Regions from separate parts of the Homo sapiens genome. Here all the other regions are reported to be linked to region 1. The links are microRNA targets in miRTarBase. Many come from high-throughput screens and were not tested one by one. Region 1 holds a microRNA gene; each other region holds the end of a gene's coding sequence.

Evidence for each region. Region 1 holds the annotated microRNA hsa-miR-3065-3p (UCAGCACCAGGAUAUUGUUGGAG, at 1,287-1,309, shown strand). A microRNA usually pairs through its seed, bases 2 to 8, with sites in the 3' UTR of a target mRNA and lowers its output. Matches are read on the target gene's strand: a 7mer-m8 pairs with bases 2 to 8, a 7mer-A1 pairs with bases 2 to 7 and ends in A, and an 8mer does both.
Region 2: the mRNA of RIMS2 is a reported target of hsa-miR-3065-3p. Seed matches in the 3' UTR shown: 7mer-A1 at 2,214-2,220.
Region 3: the mRNA of RINT1 is a reported target of hsa-miR-3065-3p. The part of its 3' UTR that is shown has no 7-base or 8-base seed match.
Region 4: miRTarBase lists RETSAT as a target of hsa-miR-3065-3p. The part of its 3' UTR that is shown has no 7-base or 8-base seed match.

Annotation. Positions count from the first base shown.
Region 1 is chr17:81,124,640-81,128,204 of GRCh38, forward strand. MIR3065 (microRNA 3065) reads left to right here and starts at 1,238; the gene lies at 1,238-1,316. It overlaps AATK (apoptosis associated tyrosine kinase), which reads right to left. Exons shown (of 14, transcript NM_001080395.3): 5 at 3,153-3,271; 6 at 2,944-3,031; 7 at 1,788-1,921; 8 at 291-375; 9 at 88-209. It overlaps MIR657 (microRNA 657), which reads right to left and starts at 734; the gene lies at 637-734. MIR338 (microRNA 338) reads right to left here and starts at 1,310; the gene lies at 1,244-1,310.
Region 2 is chr8:104,251,598-104,254,597 of GRCh38, forward strand. RIMS2 (regulating synaptic membrane exocytosis 2) reads left to right here. Exons shown (of 30, transcript NM_001348484.3): 30 at 5-2,833. The coding sequence ends at 223. Among named protein-coding and RNA genes, the nearest start is that of DCSTAMP, 87 kb to the right of the region's middle.
Region 3 is chr7:105,566,674-105,570,396 of GRCh38, reverse strand. RINT1 (RAD50 interactor 1) reads right to left here. Exons shown (of 15, transcript NM_021930.6): 15 at 2,720-3,278. The coding sequence ends at 3,086. EFCAB10 (EF-hand calcium binding domain 10) reads left to right here. Exons shown (of 5, transcript NM_001355526.2): 2 at 826-990; 3 at 1,107-1,194; 4 at 2,907-2,930. Among named protein-coding and RNA genes, the nearest start is that of EFCAB10-AS1, 2.5 kb to the left of the region's middle.
Region 4 is chr2:85,340,006-85,343,728 of GRCh38, forward strand. RETSAT (retinol saturase) reads right to left here. Exons shown (of 11, transcript NM_017750.4): 10 at 3,634-3,723; 11 at 1,950-3,376. The coding sequence ends at 3,237. It also overlaps the pseudogene PEBP1P2. Among named protein-coding and RNA genes, the nearest start is that of RETSAT, 13 kb to the right of the region's middle.

The DNA.
Region 1 (3,565 bases):
CCTCACTACTCATGGCCATGATTTGACATGGGTGGGCAGGTGGCACTCGGCCTCGGCCCCTCACGGTGCCACCAGGGCCGCACTCACCACACATTCCCGCTCTTGGTCTGGTCCACGACGAGCAGGTTGCTATGCACCTCGTCCACCAGCTCTGGCGCGATCCAGCGCAGAGGCACCCACAGCTGGTCGGCAGTCACGAAGTAGTCCTCCTGTTGGCACAGGGACGGGTCACCCCTGCCGGCGCAGGCCCTGCCCCTCATGCCCAGCCCAGCCCACCCCACCCCACTCACTCTGTACTTGCAGTGAGCCAGGCCATAGTCACCAATCTTCACCGTCAGGTCAGCCGTGAGCAGGCAGTTCCGCAGGGCCAGGTCGCTGCAGGCAGGGGCAGGGGCAGGGGCAGGGTGAGCAGGGTGAGCAGGGTGTGCCGGGTGGGGGCAGGGGGAGGGTCAGTGGGGTGTGCCGGGCGGGGGCATCCAGCACAGGGTCCTTTGCCAACACTTGGATGGCTCACAGTCCAGGCTGGAAGGGGCGTTGGAGACACTGCCACCCCCCATCCCTGCCCAGGGCCCTACTCTGTGCCCAACCCTGAGACCTGGGGAGGGACTGTGTGCGTGGGCCTCAAATGTTACAGTGCAGAGGAGAATGGGGCCTAGAGAGGGTGAGAACCTGCCGGAACCCACCCGGACCGGTCCACGCTTCTCCAGGACCCTCTCCTCCTAGCTCTACTACACTATCACTCTCGGCTCCCCAGGAGGTGGGAATTGATGGGGAAACTGAGGCCTGGAGTGTCCCAGGGGTCCTGCCGGCTGCCGGAGTCCAGTTTTAGGGTCCAGCCCTGCCATGCCCACTCAGAGCTGGAGCTCACTCTCACTTGAGCCACCACTGGCCCCAGGGTTGGGTAGGGTCTGGAAAGAATGCAGGTTACGCCTGGCACTACCTCCAACCCAGCCTGCCTTGGCTGCTGGCTTTGAACCCTGCCTGGCTGGTCACGTGGGTGTGAGGAGGCACAGGGTACTGGGTAGATATTACCACAGCTGCCGTATTACTTCTGTGCTCAGGACTCAGGGTGGGGACAGAGGCCAACCCAGCCTGTCCCTCCCCACATAAAACCCATGTCTGCGTGCCAGGGGATCGCTACAGGGCCATGTGTCCTGGGCCTAGGGGGTGGAGTGGGGTGGGTTGGGGTTGGGGGCAGGGCAGCTGGGGCCCGGCAGGCAGGTCGGGAGGCTGGCAGCTGCCCTCTTCAACAAAATCACTGATGCTGGAGTCGCCTGAGTCATCACTCAGCACCAGGATATTGTTGGAGAGGACAGCCGTGCGGCGTCTGGGGCTGACGGGGCCACGTGTCCTTCGCCACTTCTTCCAGCATGTCCCCCCGGGGTCCCCAGGGGCTGGGCATCCTGGCCCAAGCAGGACAGAACCCTCCCTCCAGGGTCCTTCGAAGCAGGGTCTGTCTCCCTCAAGCCCCAAAGCGAGGGCTTAGCAGAGTGTGGGGTTGGCGCGGGGCTGCAGGGTGCTGGCTGACTGCCTCGGGGACAGAGAACAGGCCAGCTTGACAGTACGCATCTCTTCGTCTAAACCTGCAAAGTGGGTGTCAAACCATTGTCTTCCCAATTTTTCAAAAACGTCATAAAATCCCTCTGCATAGTGGTTGTCTGATGCTGCATGAGATGAACCTGGCCGGTCCTCGCAAGCCCCCTGAGGCAGGACCCGCCCTATGCCCTTCCTTCAGGGGAGGGGCCTGGCCTAGGGCTTCCCGGCCGCTGGCCCGCGCCCGCCCTCACCTGTGCACGAAATTGTTGCGATGAAGGTGCAGGACGCCACAGGCCACCTCACAGGCCATGCGCTGCAGGGTCCGGGGGTCGGGAGCCATGGACTCCGCCACCCGGCAGCTCCGCAGGTAGCCCTTGAGGTCCCCCTGCAGAAAGGGGGTGTGGCGCAGTCACCAGCAGGCTGGGGGCTGGCCACCCTGGGAGGTCCCCACCTACCTCCCCAACTCCTCCACCCCTACCCACAGCTGAGGGACAGCAGCTGCCCAGAGCAGCCTCGTGCCCTGCACAGTGGCCAGCACCCAGCAGTTCCTGGAGGGGGGCCGTGTCCCCCAGGGCTGGGCTGGACTGAAGGCTTCCTCTCCACTGCCCCTCAGCCAGCCCCGGGCAGCAGGAGTCCCTTGGCCTGTGGTAGAGAGAGAAACACAGGGCCCAAGTGGATCTGCTTGATGGAGTCTGGGGCTGGTGGTCGAGGGTTGGCCGGCAGCCCCTGACCTGCCGAAAGCCCAGCCCCGGGACGGTCAACGTCAGGAGTCCAGACGCCAGTGTGTGAGGGCCCCTGTCCCGAGGGAAGCCAGCAGGGGATCCAGCCCAGCCACAGACAGCCTCGGCTCAGTGCAGGAGCTGCATATGTGGAAGGGGGTGGGGGGCAGGTCTCGGGGGAGGGGGAGACGGGTCCCCGGGGCAGGGGGGCGTTGATGGGCAGGTCTCAGGGGGAGGGGGGGACAGGTCCCCGGGGCGGGGGGCGTTGATGGGCAGGCCCAGAACTCCAGGCAGCCTGGGGAAGTGGCCAGGCCCAGCCCCCCATGGCAAAAGCAAGCCTGAGTGAGGCCGTGGAGCCCAAGTGGGCCAGTGCCCCCCCCCAGTTGGCCCAGGATGCCTCCTCCTGAACCACAGGGCACACAAGCAGGTGACCAAGCAGCTGGCAGCTCCCCAGGGGTGCAGGGAGCCCCAGCCCAGGCCTGTTCTGTGCCCAGCCCCCACAGTCCCTCCCTGGTGAGGCTAGGTCTCCCCATCGCCTCCTCTGGAAGGTGGTGGGGGCAGGGTCCCTGGGTCTTGGCTTTAGGGAGGATGTGAGGCCCCCAAGGAGGGGGTGGCACCAGACACTGGCAGGGCAAGGGAGGGCCCCGGCTCAGCAAAGACCCCAGCATCCCCCCGGGCAGCAGCTCACCAGTGGGCAGAACTCCATCACCAGCAGGTAGGGCGTCACCTCGGCGCACTGGGCCAGGCACTGGAGCAGGTTGCTGTGCTTCAGGGCCCTGCGGGAGTGGACAGGCGGCCCCTGACTTGGGAGGAGGTGGGGAGGGGGAGTCGGGCCGAGCAGGGGAGGGAGAGGAGGGGGCCGCACAGCACAGGCCTTTGTGCCCGGTGGCCTCCCACCTGTAGGGCTGCACCTCCTCCAGGAACTGCATCTGCTCCTGCACGCTGGCACTAGCCTGCAGCTCCTTCACCACCACCTGGGCACTGCTGATGCCAGAGTTCACCTCCCCCAGGAACACCTGTGGGACAGACAGCATCACCCACGGCTGCTCCGCCTCCACCGGCCCCGGCTTCCAGGCCTTACTCTTCTCCCACCCGCCCCACGCCGGCCCCCAGGACAGGACACTTCTCCTCCTGTGCCCCGTCCACTCATTGCAGCGTGAGGTATGGCTTCCGGATCCCTCCCGGCAACCCTCTGGCTGTAATATTCTGAGTCTTTCGTGTTACTCTCCCCACAAGGTCCCCCGCTGCCCTCTCTCTCTCTCTCTCTGGGGGTTTGAAGTGAGGAAGAGGGACCCAGGTGTCTCGTTTAG
Region 2 (3,000 bases), not on the chromosome of region 1:
ACAGATCATCGTCTGGGGAGATTATGGCCGCATGGATCACAAATCTTTTATGGGAGTGGCCCAGATACTTTTAGATGAACTAGAGCTATCCAATATGGTGATCGGATGGTTCAAACTTTTCCCACCTTCCTCCCTAGTAGATCCAACCTTGGCCCCTCTGACAAGAAGAGCTTCCCAATCATCTCTGGAAAGTTCAACTGGACCTTCTTACTCTCGTTCATAGCAGCTGTAAAAAAATTGTTGTCACAGCAACCAGCGTTACAAAAAAAAAAAAAAAAATCACAGGTTGCAAACCCTGGTAACACTGCATGCTTAATGTTGTGTCTTCTGAGCCTGTTTCTAGGGATACAAAGCAATCCTGTGTTCTCAGAGGAAGTTGCACACATTGTGCCCTAAAGAAGGCCCTCAGGTGAAAGAGCAGAGCTGTGAAGAACTATCAGATTTGGAATTCAATGACACTCGAGTTCTGGTCCAATCTGAAGCCATGGATTAATCTCAAAGAATCAGTCAGTTTCATGCAACAGAAGCCCTTTTCAATGGCACCTTTATATTTTTATCATTCCTTTTTCTTCATTTATCTAACCCCAAAGCCCTGATATGCCACAGAAATGGAGCTATACAGCCATGAAGCGGTGTTACAGGTGAGGAGTGTAATCCTAGGAAGCATCAGGTGAAAAGCAGGAGACCAAAGAAGTGGTCAGGAACAATCATCAGCCCTCCTCTGGGCGGGAATCAGAGCAGTCAGTCCAGCAGGAAGAGTGGCAGACTTTGTAGCTCCATGGGCACGTCAATTACTAATGCTAAGATGTGTTGGACTCTGAAAAACAAAATTCTGTGGCTACACTGTACTGAATGAAATTAAAGAAACTTTTTTTGCATGGACACAGATTAGCTGAATACTTAAATTATTTTCTTGGGGCTGCAACTTGCAAAAAAAAAAAAAAGAATAAAAATCAGCCATTTTCAACAATTTATATTATTTTTAAAAATAAATTTCACTAGTGCATGGTTTTAAAAAGGAGAGAGAATGCAACAGGGTGATACAAAGATACACCATGTTTATTCTTTAATCATAGTCTGTGTTTTGGCAGACATTACAAATGGAAATACTTTCTAGAAGATACTTAAAATTCTCTTTATGTGACAAATAAGTATAATATATTCAATTTATTTCCATGTTAAATATACAAATCTTATGAAGTTCAATATGTGCAAATTTTTCACATCTTTCTCCTTCTCTCACTTTACCTCTTCTCCCTCTTTTAAACTTTTCTTTCTCCCTGCCAGAGTGAACCTTATACTAAAAAATTACAAGTTTTGATCTGATCCTCTCTCATACCCCATGTTTGATTCAGAGCTGTAGATGCCTCTGAATTTGCGAATTTCTCAAGGGAAAATTAACTTTAAGAGCTTTCTTTATTTCAAGCATGTTGAAAAGGATTTTGCAACATGACTTGGGAGTACATTAAAGTAAGTCAGCATGTATTTGACGAAGAAGATATTTGAACTTTTGCAGTTTATTGTACAGTGCATGGTAATTTTTTCACCTTTAAAATTCAGTTTACAGGAAAATTCTAAAATCATGTTGCCATTGTGATGTCCAATAAATTTGTTTTTAGCACCAGCATTATTCATACAGGGGTTAAAGTATTATTTGTAGAAGGTCTTAGGTTTTGTTTGTTTTTTAATCATTTAAAGCAATTTCTTTAGCCAGTTTCCATTTACTATGTGAATAGAAGCACTGCTAAAAATTGGGAACCCTGAAACACAGGGCTGTTTATTAATTCATTTTTCTGTAGTAAAATTCAATTTTTCACAAATTATATTTCTAAAGAAATATAGTAAACATAAATTTGCAACAATTTTAAAGCTCCAGTTTTTAGGTGACTCAAAGAAAGTCATTATGCCTATTAATAGTTATTTGATGCCATCACCAAAAGTCTATGTGAAAATCTCCTAAAGTCAAAACCCCTGCCTTTGGTTTTACAGACGGTTATTACCATTGGGTGGAGCTGCAAGGTCAAATTTCTCCTAAGTTCCCCTATTTAGAGGAAAAGTCACTGGTTATTGTAATAAACCACCCATGGTTCTTTATGTACATTTTGATAACACATTATTATAGCTTGATTTTAATTTTTTGCATTAATTTTTGAAATCCACATACATCTCATTTGTTTAAATTAAGGCCATGCACAAATATTTTTTTTAGTTCAGTGCTGACCATTAAAAACTATCATGCTTGATACGGTGCAAAAGTTAAAATGAGTATCACTAAAAATGCCTTCTTTTTATGTGGTGCAATATGAAATACACCAAGACTGTGTCTTGACATTCTGATGGACCCAGGTAAAGTTGTTAAAAGAACGAATAAAACTTTATTAAAATAATTTAGACACCTGTGTACCAGCAACAATTGATTTAATAGACCTATAGTGTCTATACTATCCCTTAGAATAAAGGTTTATGATTTTCCTGATACTAAGATGCAGTCACATAATCTTTTGTGCATATTCCTATACAAATTATTTCTAATTTTAATAAGAAGGACGTGACTACGGAATATTTGTACATACTTGTCATTATGCAGTATTTATTTAAAAGTTGGTGTTTTTTTTTAATTTTCACATCTGCACCTCGACTTGTGGTTTAGTCATGTAACTAGCACTATGCCAGTGACCGTTGTTGCCCTGTACATAGTATGTTTGAAAAGTAAAGGGAATTCCAGTTGGGAAAAAAGGGCAGATTAGTCCTGTAATGAACACCAACTAATGTAAATCAAATTCATTCTGGTGATGGTATTTAACACTTTAAATAAAACATTTTCTTTACAGGCGTCTGCAGTGCTTTCTCTGACTTTTCTCCCCACACAGCCCTGAGCCTGCTGCAGCTCATTCCCTGAACTCATGTGTCATTTAAAGAATGAAATCACCGTCTCCTACTTCTCGATAACATAAGTGGACTGCTGGTCTTAGCAGCGGCCCTCAGTAGAGCATTTCTTTA
Region 3 (3,723 bases), not on the chromosome of region 1:
TTTATCCAAATTGCTTTGTTAGAAATGAGTACATGTGCTTCCTGGAGGACCATATTTATCAGTCTTTGTTTTTATTATATTTATATATATGTGTGTGTGTATGTGTATATGTATGTGTGTGTGTGTGTATATATATATATATATATATATATATATTTTTTTTTTTTTTTTTTTTTTTTTTTTTTGAGAGAGTCTTGCTCTGTTGCCCAGGCTGGAGTGCAGTGGCGTGATCTTGGCTCACTGCAACCTCTGCCTCCCGGGTTCAAGCGATTCTCCTGCCTCAGCCTCCCGAGTAGCTGGGATTACAGGCATGCACCACCACGCCTGGCTAACTTTACTAGAGATGGGATTTCTCCATGTTGGTCAGGCTGGTCTCAAACTCCCAACCTCAGGTGATCTGCCCTCCTCGGCCTCCCAAAGTGCTGAGATTACAGGCATGAACCACCATGCCCAGCCTATTATTTATATCTTATCAATTATTTAGGTTGCCAACTTCTTCCCTGTATTATGCTGTTCCCTCTATGTTTTTGGTTTTCAACCCTGTCTGCAACTTATAGTCACTTGGGGAGTTTTTCTAAAAAATGCCCAGGTCCAGTCTCTATAGTTTTCTATTCTATCATCTGAGATAGGGCATTTGTATATGTAATTATTTAAGTGTTCAATGTCTTACCTTCTTGCTGGACTGTTTATGAAAACTAAGGCCTGTGTCCCCAGCGCCTAGTACAGTGCCTTTGCTATAGCTGTTTAATAATTGTTAAATGACTACTTCTATTTGCGACATATTTTAATTTCGTATCAGAAAGAGCTGGAACTATTCTTTTGCAGAAAAACCAAAAGAATATTTAATATCTCTATTGGAACGACTGAGAATTGCAAAAGTAACAGGCGTGGCGTTTCCTTTCTTTATGGATAACTCTAACATTGTGGCTATGTTTGAGATGATGGACTCCTCAGGCAGAGGCACCATATCATTTGTGCAGTATAAAGAAGGTCAGTACATTCTACAAATTGAGGTAATAGTTTGTGGTCATTCCACAGTTTTTTCTAGCAGAAAATACTTCTCACTTTGTAAAATTCTCACTTCATTTCTTCTCATTATTTTACAGCCCTAAAAACCCTGGGTCTATGCACTGAAGATGAAGATTTACAAGATGATGGACATAAAATAACTTTGGATAAATTCAAGGAGGAAGTGTAAGTTTATTTTTAAGTGACAAATATTTTAATAAGGTGGCATGATTTTGAAGCACAATTAATACCTTTAAAACAGGTTCCTATCTTTTGAAAGAAATATTTTGTTCCCTTGAAACTTTCAGCTGACTGGAAAGTGAGGACAGGTAAGGCTGACGGTAAAGTCCCTAAACTTGGGAATAGGAAGGGAAAATGCTGGGGTTAGAGAGGAAGTTCCAGAGGCAGCTCCATTCTTTTTTTTTTTTTTTTTTTCCCTGAGATGGAGTCTTGCTCTGTTGCCCAGGCTGGAGTGCAGTGGCAATATGTCGGCTCACTGCAACCTCCACCTCCCGGGTTCAAGCGATTCTCCTGCCTCAGCTTCCCAGTAGCTGGGCTTACAGATGCGCATCACCACATCCAGATAATTTTTTTGTATTTTTAGTAGAGTCAGGGTTTCATCATGTTGGCCAGGCTGGTCTCAAACTCCTGATCTCAAGTGATCCACTGCCTCGGCCTCTCAAAGTGCTGGGATTACAGGCATGTAATGGGCTGTGCCCAGCCAGCTCCATTCTAAATAGGAAGCCCCAGCAATTCTCAAAGGATGAGGTGAAGAAGCACCAATATGCTAGGACAACTAACAAACAGAAACATTTTGAGCTCAACACACTAGCTGGAAACTCTCTCTATAAAATACATACTAATAGAATCTATCTCAAAATATTTCCTCAAAATTATCACAAAGTAAATGTTTATCAGAAGCATAGGCTGCATGTTAGTCTGATAATTTTAGATTTTGAGATATTACAGGATTAAAAGTACTAACCCACTGCTAAGTCAGAGAAAAACCATTGGAATAAAATTTAATAGTTGTGGAAAGTTTCCAGGGAATCTAGCTCAATTTTTTAAAGAGTTTTACTCTGAGATTTTATTAGTCAAGTAACTATTATTGAATATACCCCAAGGACAAGGAAAAGTTACAAGAAAAAATAAACTTTTGAGACTTTTGTCTCATAAGTTACATAAATAATAAAAATGTTTAATTACATTCCCTACCACATGGGAATGTTTGAGTCAGAGTGCCATGGCCTGAAATGTTTCATCCAGAAAGAAAGGGTTGCCCACTGTCACACAGAATGAAACTAGGAAGCATTTAAAATAGAAGGGCATTTGTGAGAAATGAAGAACAATCCTATCTTATTCACCATCTCACAATGTGTTTTGTTTTGTTCTTTAGAGACAGGGTCTTGTTCGCTTGCCCAGGCTGCTGTGCCGTGTCACAATCAGAGCTCACTGTAGTCTTGACCTCCTGGGCTCAAGCTAGCCTCCCACCTCAGCCTCCCAAGTAGCTAGAACTACAGGCATGCATCAGGGTCTTGACATGTTGGCCAGGATGTTTTCGCACTCCTGCCTCAAGCAATCCTCCTACCTCAGCCTCCCAAAGTGCTGGGATTACAGGCATGAGACACTGTGCCCTGCCAGTTTCCTCATGGAAATACAGTTAATTCCCAAACTAGATACAGGTGCCTCAATTACAAATATGCATTCAAAGGGAGTTTTAAAAAAATTTATTGGCTATGTTTGATTATCCACAACAGAATTTCCCTTAATTAGCACAGGAAATTGAAAGTTGGTTATAATTTAATATCTCTGCTCGTCTTCAACAGACATACTCAGCATTTATACTTGTAAATAGAATTGAGTTTTCATTGTTTCGTTTTCTGTTTTTGTTTCCTTAGGAACAAGAGGATGAAGGAAATATGGTCAGCATTTTAATAACACCATAAATCCAAGATAATAAGTAATTCTATAAAGTTTTCCAGTTTCATTAATTCAGAATTTCATCATATAACTTGAAATCCAATTGGCTTCCTCTTTCTTAGAAACAAAAACCAAAGAAACCTTTTTCTGAAAGACATTATTTTCCAGTATTAGGCCAATTTGTCCTCAAATTAAGTAGAATCTCAACATCTTGTTGAGCCAGTTTGTAAATTCCAACTTCATTTAATGCTGCTGTGGCAGGAAGCTGCCCTGAAGCTGACTGCAGTACATCTTTCAGCAGTAGTGCAGAACCGACGTTCAAATTCAAAACAATACAGGCTTCTTTTATACTGTTTAGGGAAAACAAAGGAGGGAAATGAGATCTCCATTATCTGCATCAATTATATTACAATTTTGAGAATCCTAAACAGCTTCTCTGCACTGCTGGTCCACATGTTCTCTATAAAAATATTTATGGATTTATTATTTGGTTCTTTTAACATGGTAAGACTACACAGGTGCAGAGTTGCTATTTCTTTAGATTACTATAAGGTAATACGATCCCTATTTCAATATGTATCCGTTATTTCCCTAAATACAATACTTAATATTAACACTATATTAAATATAGCTATAACTTTAGGTAGATTAGAACATGGGAAAAGACAAAAATAAGAGATAAATGAAAGCAGCAGAAAGAACATTAAAATAAATTTTAAAAACAGTCCTATGAAACGTGTAAACATAAGCTTTCATTTTATAAGTCTAAAAGGAATGCTTTATAACCTCACAAAA
Region 4 (3,723 bases), not on the chromosome of region 1:
CTGAGCTATATGTTTGGTCTTTTTTGTTTGTTTTGTTTTGAGACGGGGTCCCACTCTCTTGCTCAGGCTGGAGTGCAGTGTCACAATCTTGGCTCACTGCAACCTCCACCTCCCGGGCTCAAGTGATCCTCCCACCTCAGCCTCCTGAATAGCTGGGACTACAGGGGCACACCACCATGCCCAGCTAATTTTTCTGGGGGTGGGGTGGGGACTTTCTATAGAGACAGGGTCTTGCCATGTTGCTCAGACTGGTCTTGAACTCCTGAGCTCAAGCAATCTACCTGCCTTGGCCTCCCAGAGTGCTGGGATTACAGGCATGAGCCAAAGCACCCAGCCCTGAGCTGTATGGTACTTCAAACTGCCAACACGCCAGCCCCGGACACTCTGATTGGTATTCTTTTAATTCATCAGACTCCATGTGCAATAAATGACTGAGTGTTGAAACTGTTCTTTTTTGTTTGCCCAGTCGGTAGATGGCCACTTTTTGTAACTTTTTTTTTCATTCAGGTTTCTATTTTTATTCAACTATAAGCAAACAGCACAATTAATGCAATGTTCAGCAACTCCAGACCAGCTTTTCTTACTCCCGTGAAGAATGATCAGTTTAACAAACACCGATCTAAGGTTTCCTCCCAAGCTGTCAGCGAGCGCTGCTGCCGGTCTAGATGGCCATGTCCCAACAACAGCAGCGCCACTCTCCCTCCTGCTTCTTCCAGGATTGCTCTTTAAAGGGACCAGAGCGACATACTGATGCCTATTGAGGCATCTGAGATGCACCGTGTTGGGGGTTAGCCTCAATGCCAGCCTCTGGTTGTCTAGGTGAGTGACATCACCATAAAAACACATTGTGTACCATTCTGGACTCAGGATCACAAAGGCAGAGGCAACCAATCTTTTTTTTTTTAAAACCTTCCTTAAAGATTCTTTGATGCTTTGCTCTATCACTGTAGACCTGGTTTTTTCCCCCTAGTTTTTTCTTTTTTACATTCTGGGTTGCTATTTTCAGATTAACAATTTGATGACCCCATCACAGTACCAAAATATCCCCCAAAATGAAGTTCAAATTTGATCAAAACATAAATCAGAGTGAGTGAGTAAAATTATAAAGGCCAGGCAGCAGGAAAAGTCACCCTCAACCACCATCTGACTGGTCAGGTCTCACCTGTGCCAAGGGGGGCAGGAAGAGGAGAAACCTATTATACATGCAACACTGAACTGGGGAACATGGCTTGGGGCCTCCAGAACAGTTCAGGTCCCCAAGCTAACCCACTAGTTCCCAGAGAGTTGCTCGTACAGTTTGGGCACATAGTCGTCCCACTCAGCCTGGTAACACGTGCCAGCCACCGGGGCCCCGAGCTCGTACTTTTTACGGAAGGACACCACCTCAAATTTGCCACGGTGGTCTCCAGATCGGTTGCTGAGGATGGGCTCGTCACACTTTAGTGGCCTGTCCTGCTCATAAACCAGCCAGACATAGCGGTGGAGACCTGTGCCCTTGGGAGGCCCCGAGCCCACATAATCGGAGAGGAGTGTGTCACTGCTGATGTCATTGCCCTTCATGTTGACCACCAGGAAATGATGCCATTCTCTGTATTTGGGATCCTTCCTGCTGGGAGCATCAGGGTCTGTCAGGACCAAGGTGTAGAGCTTCCCTGAATCAAGACCATCCCACTAAATGCTGGTGGGTCTATTCTTAACCTGGGTGGGCGTCAGCACTTTGCCCAGCTCGTCCACCACCGCCCGGGCGTAGGTGACATGCAGCAGGTGCTGTGACCGCTCGTCCATTTCTCGCAGGCTCAAGGGCCCGGACCACTTGCTGAGGTCCACCGGCATGGCAAGGCCAAGCAGAGCATGCAGCCGGGAGTGCCGCGGTAGGCCAGGTGCGGGCGGCAACAGCGACATGGAGAGCTCAGCACACTGGCCTGGGAAGGCGCAGACCCCACTTTTTGTAACTTTATAATTACTTAATTTTATTTTTTTAAAGCTTATTTTGGTGTTATTCAGTATATAGTGTTTTACTGAGCTTCTGCAAATGCCATCACAATAATAGTTTTGTTTTCTTGAACAAAAAACCAAAATAAATTTCAAATGTTAAAGCAATGGAATCAATAAATTTATTAATGTTACATTAACACGAACTACAAAGAGACCTTTCGTATGTCTGATACCAAAGACATAACTGAAAAGTCATTTTTCCAAACCTTGAGCTTGCATTCACCTACCTGTCTAACCCTCACATGTGCTAATTAACTGCAAATGCCATTTCTGGGCTTCACACACATTCCGTGGCTTTCCCTTTTCTGATGTGACTTCCCTCCCTTACCCCACACCTCCCTGCACTGTCCCCTGCTGTGCCCTTGGCTGGAATGCCCTGCAGCCTGCTTCAGCCCAGCAAAGTATTCATCTTACCAGTCCATGCCCTGACTCCTGATGTCACCCTTCCCTGCATCACCCTTCCCTGTGTATTTGGTGGATAAGGCTTGATTGAGGCTCAGGTACTGAGTCCCTGCTGGCACATTGAGAACCAGCTGCCACCCCGATGATAAGGAAGACAGACCCGGGACTTCCATATGAATTGGATATGATCATCTGACATGCACCCTACTAACTGATGGATCCTGCTGTTACCCCAAAGCTCCAGAACCACACTGGCCAGACACAGGCATTTCCTGTCCCCTGAAGAGCCACTGAACCCAGCACAAAAGAGATCTAGAGCTCTCCAAACCTATGGAATGGCAACCAAAACCACGCCCAGGTTTTGAGTTAAGCCTCATTAGTCTCCCTTTTCCCTTGACAGTGTAGAACTGTGCAGCGTAGCACTAAATGAATGAGAGCAGAAGCCTCAGGACAGAACTGAACCCACCAGGTTGAGCTGACAACACTGCCAGGGGTTCTATCCACAGATGGAATATTCGCTTTGATCACTGAGTTAGGAGGCATGGGTGAGGGATGCAGAGCGCCGCTCGTCATGAGACATCAAGCTATCCAAGTCAATATCCTATTAGTAGGGATGGCATGTTATAAAAGGCGTAAAGATCTCACCTGCCCCAGCTGGAAGCAGTGATTCCATTGCCCCAGATTCGGAATTGTGATTTAAACTAGGCCTCTCTTCAGGCATCAGAACCAAATTAGAGTGCTTTATACGTGCAAGGAACTAATGCAGAAAGACATTATGGGTAAGTCAAGGGAGATGCCCCAGCCATTGGGCAAATTCCTCTGACTCCTCCCTGATGGAACTAATTCTTTTTCTTCTGTGCCCGGATCCTAGAATCAAGATTCTTAAGGTCTGAGTACAAGTTCCGCTTCAGGATGGCGCTGCTGCACAGCAGGGCACCTTGCAGGGCCCCGACCAGTCCACAGGTGAAGATATCCTGGCCTAGGAGGCAAGAGCAGAGGCCCCTGAGCGTGCACCCAGGCAGGCCCAGGGGAGGGTGGGGCCTTGGTGCTCTTCCCTCCACATGAGGGCCACCCAGAGCTGGCTCCAATCAGACAGGGGCCACAGCCTGCCCAGGCAGCCCTGCTCAGGGGATGGGAGGCTGCAGGGGACAGCAGGGCCTGAGGGCAGGAACAGAGGACGTTGGGCGACAGGGGCCCAGGGTCTCAGGTCCTGACAACATGGGGCAGTGAGTATACCTGTCAGATAGAGGTTGGGGATGGGGCTCTGGGCCCTCAAGGAGGCCATCACACAAGGGTGCAGGCGGCCCAGGTCATGGTCAGCCCCGT